2 linked regions of the Homo sapiens genome follow. The protein of the gene in region 2 purifies or fractionates together with the protein of the main gene of each other region. This does not show direct contact. Each region holds a gene or a part of one and is shown on either strand. Other genes may lie near its edges.

Evidence for each region.
Region 1: the proteins of HACD3 (region 2) and PARP16 purify together in Homo sapiens (affinity purification with mass spectrometry; one large-scale study listed by BioGRID and IntAct). This does not show direct contact.

What each region holds. Positions count from the first base shown.
Region 1 is NC_000015.10:65,284,084-65,288,072, forward strand, and holds the start of PARP16 (protein mono-ADP-ribosyltransferase PARP16), read right to left. Parts: upstream 2,801-3,989; 5' UTR 2,344-2,800; coding exon 2,170-2,343; intron 1,509-2,169; exon of another isoform or gene 1,378-1,508; intron 1-1,377. UniProt on the Homo sapiens protein: Intracellular mono-ADP-ribosyltransferase that plays a role in different processes, such as protein translation and unfolded protein response (UPR), through the mono-ADP-ribosylation of proteins involved in those processes.
Region 2 is NC_000015.10:65,529,116-65,533,262, forward strand, and holds the start of HACD3 (very-long-chain (3R)-3-hydroxyacyl-CoA dehydratase 3), read left to right. Parts: upstream 1-1,347; 5' UTR 1,348-1,516; coding exon 1,517-1,603; intron 1,604-1,678; exon of another isoform or gene 1,679-1,718; intron 1,719-4,147. UniProt on the Homo sapiens protein: Catalyzes the third of the four reactions of the long-chain fatty acids elongation cycle. This endoplasmic reticulum-bound enzymatic process, allows the addition of two carbons to the chain of long- and very long-chain fatty acids/VLCFAs per cycle.

The DNA of each region.
Region 1 (3,989 bases), 250 kb from region 2:
AACCAAACACTGATGATTTCATCAGAGATAACGCTAAACACGTGTTGATTCTAAATACCTCCTTTAATCTATCAATGTGGTTCGTGCCATTAACTGATTGCCTAATATTGAACTAATTTTGCATTCCTGGGATGAACCCAACCTGGTCATAAGGAATTACCCTTTTTTATACATTGCTAGCTTTAAGATCCTAATACCTTGAAGATAATTTTTGCATTCATACTCATGACATTGGCCTATAATTTTCTTTCCTCTTTTTTTTTTTTTTTTTTTTTTTTTGAGACAGTCTTGCTCTGTTGCCCAGGCTGGAGTGCAGTGGGGCGATCTCGGCTCACTGCTACCTCTGCCTCCCAGGTCCCAGTTCAAGCAATTCTCCTGCCTCAGCCTCCTGAGTAGCTGGGATTACCAGCATGCACCACCATAATGGTGAGACAGGGTTTTACCATATTGTCCAGGCTGGTCTTGAACTCCTGACCTCGTGATCCACCCGCCTCAGCCTCCCAAAGTGCTGGGATTACAGGTGTGAGCCACCGCACTCGGCCTATAATTTTCTTTTTTTGTATCACCCTTATCAGATTTAGGGTCAAGGTTATGCTAGCCTCTTTTTTAATACTCTGTGTAAAACTGGGAATTACTTATTCCCTCAGTGATTGCTACAACTCACCAATGACACCAGCTACGTCCAGAGTTTTCTTTGAGGGAAAATCCTTGACTACTAATCCAACGTCTTTTTTTTTTTTTTTTTTTTTTTTGAGAGAGAGACTTGCTGTGTTGCCCAGGCTGGAGGGCAGTGGTGTGATTACAGCTCATTGCAGCCTCGACCTCTTGGACTCAAGCCATCCTCCCGCCTCAGCCTCCCAAGTAGCTGGGACTACAGGCGTGCATCACCACACTCAGCTAATTTAAAGAAATCTTTTTTGCCTAGGCTGGTCTCAAACGATCCTCTTGCCTTGCCTTCCCAAAGTCCTTGGGATTACAGGCATGAGCCACTCAGCCTTTTTCTTCTTTTTCTACAATAGTCTAGAAAAGTTCGCCCAATAACCTGGCACCCTCCAGGTTTTTTTTTTTTTTTTAATGGAGTTTCATTCTTGTTGCCCAGGCTGGACTGCAATGGCGCAATCTCGGCTCACCACAACGTCCGCCTCCCGGGTTCAAGCGATTCTCCTGTCTCAGCTTCCAGAGTAGCTGGGATTACAGGCATGCGCCACCACGCCCGGCTAACTTTTTGTATTTTTAATAGAGACGGGATTTCTCCATGTTGGTCAGGTTGGTCTTGAACTCCCAACCTCAGGTAATCTGCCCGCCTTGGCCTCCCAAAGTGCTGGGATTACAAGCATGAGCCACCGAGCCTGGCCCCTCCAAGTTTTTAACAGTGAAGAATGTTACTTGTGCAAGTCAGAATCTGATACCAATTAAATGGTGACAGCTTTGCTGGTAAACAAGAATATGCTCTTCCATGGCAAGGAAGGGAGACTGCCACACTTGACAGGTCCCAAAGATACATGGAGTTCAGTGTCTTTAATGAATATCAGCTATTGGCGATTTCAATTTTCTGCTTTTTATTGAATCGATTTTGGTAAGTTATATTTTTCTAGGCAATTCCAAACATTTGGATTATAAGGATAACTGATATCTTGAATGCTGACCCAGAGGTGAACTCTGCAAAAAAAGTGCCTGGTGAATCAGAGAAATAACAGCTTACATATGTACTGGATGTTACAGTTTATAAAAGTACTGCCCATAGATCACCTCATCTGAAGACCAATGTCTGGGCGGCTTTGGTGACTTTTTGGTGTCTAATTATTTGCAAAAGGATGGATAACTTTCTAGCTAAGCAAAACAGCTGATTCACATCAACCCTATTCCTGGCCAGGCTAGAAAATCTGTGGAGGACTATGCAACTATTCCTCACTTCAGTCCTCGGAGTCATTTGTCATTGACAGGAGAGAAGCAGCCACCAAGTGCCTTGGGAGTGAGCGTTGACATGAGGGTGTTAGCAGTGTTCTTAGCTCATGGAAACCTTCCCCAAGGCAAGGCAAGACCAAGCTGGGAATGGAAAGTCTGGCGGCTGTCATGTTTACTAATGCGGATGGAACTGCCTCTACCTGTGGTTCCACAGGGCACTTGGTCCAGGACGCAGTGGGCAGCGCCAGGACAAAGCACACTCACCAGGGCTTCAAAGTCCTTACAGTCGCCGCGGGCGTAGGACGCGGGGAAGGGCCGCAGCACCGAGTCGCGCTTGTAGCTCTGCAGGGCCGAGGCGAAGAGGCTGCACCGGAGGTCGGCGGCCAGCATGTCGCGGCCCGCCGCCTCCCTGGCGGCCGCCCAGCCTGAGGGCTGCATCCCAGGTCACTGCGCGTTGCCGGGGTAGACGCGCTGGTTAGGGGCAAGGGCGAGCGTGCGTTCAGCGCGGGGGCTGGGCCCGCGGACAATGGGCCGTCAGGGGCCGGGTTCCCAAGCCTGGGGTGGAGCTAGGCAGGGGGCTGAGATGACAGGGGTGAGAACGTGCCGACAAGTGTCCTCTGCCGGGGTCTGGGCCGCGGCTCGCCGCCGAAGAGAGAGACCGAGGCCTGGACCGCGGGTCGGCGGGGAGGTTGGGCCCAGGGATAAAGGAACTGGGGCTGGTGGGGGGGAGGGGTTCCCGGCCTAGGGGAAGGGCTATGACAATGGAATGACAACCGCGGGAACGTGCTGACACGTGTCCTCCGCGGAGGCCTGGGGCGGGAAGCAGCCCCCGGGGGACGGCGGGCAGAGCCCACTCTCCGCGACGGGCGAGGCTGCTGCGCCGCGCGCGCCTTCCTGCCCCGCCTCCCGCCGCGCCGCCGAAGTCCCGCCTCTCGCCAAGCTGCCCGCGGCGCCACCTGTCTTCCGCCTGCAGCTCACGTCCGCTTGCCTTGCCCGGCCTACCTCCCCTCCCGCCGCCGCGCTCCGCCCGGCCCAGCCGAGGGCCCGCCCCTTCGCGCCCCAGCCAGCTCCACCGTACGGGTTGTGCCCGCCCCTCCCAGACCCCGATCACCCGCAGCTACGAGAGTTGCCGCCGCCAGTGTGTGCCGGGCGACGTCGCCCACGCCCCTGCCAGCCATCCTCACAGCAGCAGCAGCCCTGGTAGAAATTGATGTGGGCACCCTCTCGACCCGCCCCTGTACTTGTCTTTGTCCCAGCTCTGCGGACTGAGCCTACCTCTCTTCCTTGGGGTATTAATGCTACCTATTGTCTCTCTTGAATCTTTTCCCTCCAAAACTGCACAGAAGGAGCCATTTAACACCCAGGGAAACTGAGGCTTAGAGTGCTGCAATGCTTGCCCAAGATCCCACAGCCAGATGGGTAAATCTAGGATTCACACCGAGATCTTTGGAAAACCAAAAGACTTTTCCTCTGCTTTTCAGCCTCCAGAATTCTCTGAATTGCTTAAGTCTCTGGCCTCAAATGCCCCAAGATCCTCCTTGGGAGACCTCTCTGACAGGGAGCTTGGGGGAGAGCAGAGGGGCATTGACTTAACTCTGCTGGAGGGTAAGGACTAGACTCCCATCCCCTCTCCCTACTCAGAACCTTCATTAGAGAAAACCCCAAAGTGTGACCTCATGGTCACATGCAAATCTAAACACAGACCATTGTGCTTAAACCAACACACCGCACACACTCCTACCCTGCAGGATCTTCTGAGGAAGAAACTTCTCCTTCTGCATCCAGGCTGTGCTGGGCCCTGGACTCAGAGGAGAGGTGGTCCCATGCCATTGGATTGCATCTATGACTTCGGGAGGTAGGGCGAAGACTGGTCCCCCAGACACCACAGAGCTTCCCATCTTCTTTTGCCAGGTAAAGGTTGGGGGCTGCTCCCAGGAGCCCACATCAAATCTGTTTGCTCTGAGGCCTAGAACCACAAGGCCCCTAGTGCTTCAAAAGCCATGGGGGTTCTCATAGGACCCAGGAACTCTAAGGTGGCTTCTGAAGCTCAGACCCCAGGAAGGGAGAGCTTGGAGTGGGTCAGG
Region 2 (4,147 bases):
CTTTGTGAGCTCAGCACATTCATTATATGAAAACTCTCTATATTTTATTCTGTCCACTCTTGAGCTAAATGTTTCCAGAGAGCTAGCAGAATTTGTTTTCAGCGTTAGATCCCTCTGCTAAACAAACGGGTGCTAATAGAATCACTTTGCTAAATAAATGGGAGCTAACAGGATTGAATATGAGTTCCATTTTTGTCCCAGAGTTCTAGTTTTCATATAAATATTTCTTCCCATTAAATTCTTCTCTGCAGAAGAACTTGGGGATGAAACCCGATACAGACAAGACAGCTTAAGTAAGACATAAATGAGTGTTGTCTCTAGTTTGAGTTTCCTATTTTTTTGAGACAGTCTCCTGCACTGTCCAATAGAATAGCCACCAAAAATATGGATATTTAAGTTTAAATTAGAAGTGAATAAAGTTGGCCGGGCGCGGTGTCTCACGCCTATAATCTCAGCACTTTGGGAGGCCAAGGCGGGCGGATCACCTGAGGTCGGGAGTTCGAGACCAGCCTGACCAACATGGAGAAACCTCGTCTCTACTAAAAATACAAAATTAGCCGGTGGCGCATGCCTGTAATCCCAGCTACTCGGGAGGCTGAGGCAGGAGAATCACTTGAACCCGGGAGACAGAGGTTGCGGTGAGCCGAGATCGCGCCATTGCACTCCAGCCTGGGCAACAAGAGAGAAACTCCGTCTCAAAACAAAACAACAACAACAACAAAAAAAAAACAGAAGTGAGTAAAATTGAAAATTCGGTTATTCAGTTCAAGTACTCAAAAGCCTCATGTGGCTAGTGGCTACCGTATTAAAGAGCGCAATGTGCAATATTTCCATCATCACCTACAGTTTTATTGGGCAGCGCTGCCCTGGTCTTTATTTTCCCTTGTTGGAACGCTCTTCCACGCTGCTCCCACACCATGTCCCCTATCACCATTATTATCCTCATTTCATCTGTAATTACTTGCATCTTTTAATAGGCTGGGAGTTCTAAGACAGAAGGGACTGTGTCTCACTTCTGTTGTTCCAGTGTTTAGCTTTGAAACCCAGGCACACAGTAGGTACTCAGTAAACAGAATGCGAAGGACCGTCCAGAGACACCAGTCCCAAACCCTTTTCCAGGCTGATCGGTCCCCCATAAGTCTCCAGCCTTTTTTATTTTAAAGCTTATTTTAAAGCATGTCCCTGAAGACGAGTGGGGAGAGCAGACCACCCGCTGATTCCAATTCCCTAGGCGGCCGCGGCGAGCTGCGGCGTCTCTGTGCCCCGGCCTGCCCCTATCCCGCCTGCGCCCCGCCCCCGCCCGGCTCGCGCCAAGGCCCGCTGCTGGCGCCGCCGCCATCCCGGCGCGTCACTGCGCAGGCGCGGCCCGCGAGCGTGGGGTATCTCGAGGTGCCGGGTTGCAGGCGCTCAGGAGCGCTAGGGTTTGAGGCCTGCTTTCTGCTCGCGCCAGCAGAGCACTACCTGAGGCAGCGAGGCGCAGCGAGCCTAGCCTCCCCGCGCCCTGGGCAGTGTGGCCATGGAGAATCAGGTGTTGACGCCGCATGTCTACTGGGCTCAGCGACACCGCGAGCTATATCTGCGCGTGGAGCTGAGTGACGTACAGGTAAAGGCCGGGTCGGGCGGCGGGAAGCGCGCGGGATCGCGGCTCCGGGTACCCGCCAGGACCCCTGCCCCCTTTGTCCGCGTGCGCGCCGGAGAGCCTGCAGTGCGCCAACAAGGTCGGCGACGCGGTGCGCTTACGGCGTGCTGGCGCTTTTCGAGGCTCATCTGCAGATCTCGGGCCGGGGGCACAACCCCCCGAGGGCTGCAGGAACCTTCGGGTCCCCAGAGAGCTCGGCCTGGGCCTCTCAGGCTACCCCGGGCCTCTTCTTTGTTCGCAGTCGGCGGCCTTCATGGAGCCCAGGCCCGGCCCTGGCTGCCTGGCCGTCGGGGTTCGAGTTGGCTGGGGCCCTTCGAGATGTGGGATGAGCTTGTTGGGTCAGGGGTGCGGTTGTGACAGCGGCTTGCTGGGCCGTAGCTGAATGCCTGCCGCTGGCCTGAGAGGTCCAGCCAGGCCCCTCGGACGTTACTGAGGCTGGGCGCTGCCGGAGGTGGGGGAGGGGGAGGGGTGGGGGGCCACACCCACCTCGCAACCGTTCAGTGATGGAAATCATTCTCATTACTTTTAATTTTAAAATTCACAAGAGCTGGAGGAAGTGATTTCCCCCTCTGTTCTGAAGGTTGTGAGCTCAGGTTTGCTGAGTTGCACAGAGAACTTAAAAAGTTCTTAAGTTACATTAAGCATTTCTGTTTGAGCTCCTTGGCCCTTAATGTAAGCAAGCTGAAGGCACGTAGTAGTGGAGACTCCAGGACCTGTGTATCCTCATGTCTCTGTCCAAACTAAAGATTCTGGGCTTTGAGAAACTGGAATTTTCATTCTGGAAGGTTCTTTCTTTCTTTCTTTCTTTTTTTTTCTTTTCTTTTTTTTGAGACGGTGTTTCGCTCTTGTCGCCCAGGCTGGAGTGCAATGGCGCGATCTCGGCTCACCGCAACCTCTGCCTCCCGGGTTCAAGGGATTCTCCTGCCTCAGCCTCCCGAGTAGCTGGGATTATAGACGCGTGCCACCATGCCCGGCTAATTTTTGTATTTTTAGTAGCGACAGGGTTTCACCATGTTGGCCAGGCTGGTCTCGAACTTCTGACCTCAGGTGATCCACCCGTCTCGGCCTCCCAAAGTGCTGGGATTACAGGCATGAGCCACCGCGCCCAGCCTCTGGAAGGTTCTTTCTACAGTCATTCTTATTGGAAACTTCTCCTTAACATCTATGGCACTTTGTCATCTCTTTCACTCCATTTAACTCTCTCTGCCTCTGAACAGGCATCTGCTTGGATCACCCGTGGATCCGGTAAAATGTAGGTGCTTTCTGAGTGTCGACTTGAATTTATTGAATTTAATATAATCTTTGCTTCTGGAATATAAACAGTTTTCCTGTTGAAAGATGAAGACAGTAGTGGCCAGAATGCCTTTAAATAGGCTATGACATTGCATGGTGTGTCGTTTAATGTGTTCATCCAGACTGAGGCTATACTTTTGGGTCAGAGTATGAGTAAATGTTCTGTGCTGTCTCCCTCTACTGCTCCACGGTGGTTTAATAGAATAGGAAAAAACAAACAAAATCTTTTGTAGATGGGGATCAAAGTCCCCGTCTAGAGAGGGTTCTTCCAGCAGTCAATAAAAAAGTACGGAACAGGCCAGGTGCTGTGGCTCACGCCTGTAATGCCAACACTTTGGGAGGCCGAGGCGGGAGGATCACCTGAGGTCAGGAGTTCGACACCAGCCTGACCAACATGGAGAAACCCCATCTCTACTAAAAATACAAAATTAGCCGGGCATGGTGGTGCATGCGTGTAATTCACTATGTTGGCTACTCGGGAGGCTGAGGCAGGAGAATTGCTTGAACCCGGGAGGCGGAGGTTGCGGTGAGCTGAGATGGTGCCATTGCACTCCAGCCTGGGCAACAAGAGTGAAACTCTGTCTCAAAAAAAAAAAAAAAAAAGTAACCATCTAAAAATTTTTGGGGAAAAATAAATCATTTTTCCCCCTTATTGAGTTTTTGTTTTCTCTGGGGTTTCACATCTGTAGTTTTGAGGCACCCATATTTCAACTACCATTAGTTTAAAAGCATGATGTTACCCTCATAAAAGAGTGTTTACATGTGTTAGCAATCCTCTAACACATGTAAGGTAGTACAGATTTACAAAGGTGAGTCAGACCCAGCTTTTCAAGGGCATGCTATCTAGAAGGAGGCGTATCATATACAAACAAAAAGTTTTGTGTAGGAGTATGTTTATTGGTAGAATTGGAGTTGGATGTTGAACCAGGTATCTGGTGTTAAAGGAATTTGTTACCTTTCTTTCATTTAGTTAGTGATGACTTCCAGAAATGAGAATTATTTTTGTCAAACTAAGACTGGGAGAATGTTCCAGAAAGAGAAAGGCATAGACTTTTAGACACTTGTAATCTCTGACTTAAGCCGTGTCAATGCCCAAAGGCCACCAATAACACACCCGTAGTTAAACAAGTTGGGTTTATTACTCATTGCATTGAGAGAGCATACTCCATGGGGAACCCTGGGGTGTTTCATTAGGAGGGTGTTAGAACTGATTAT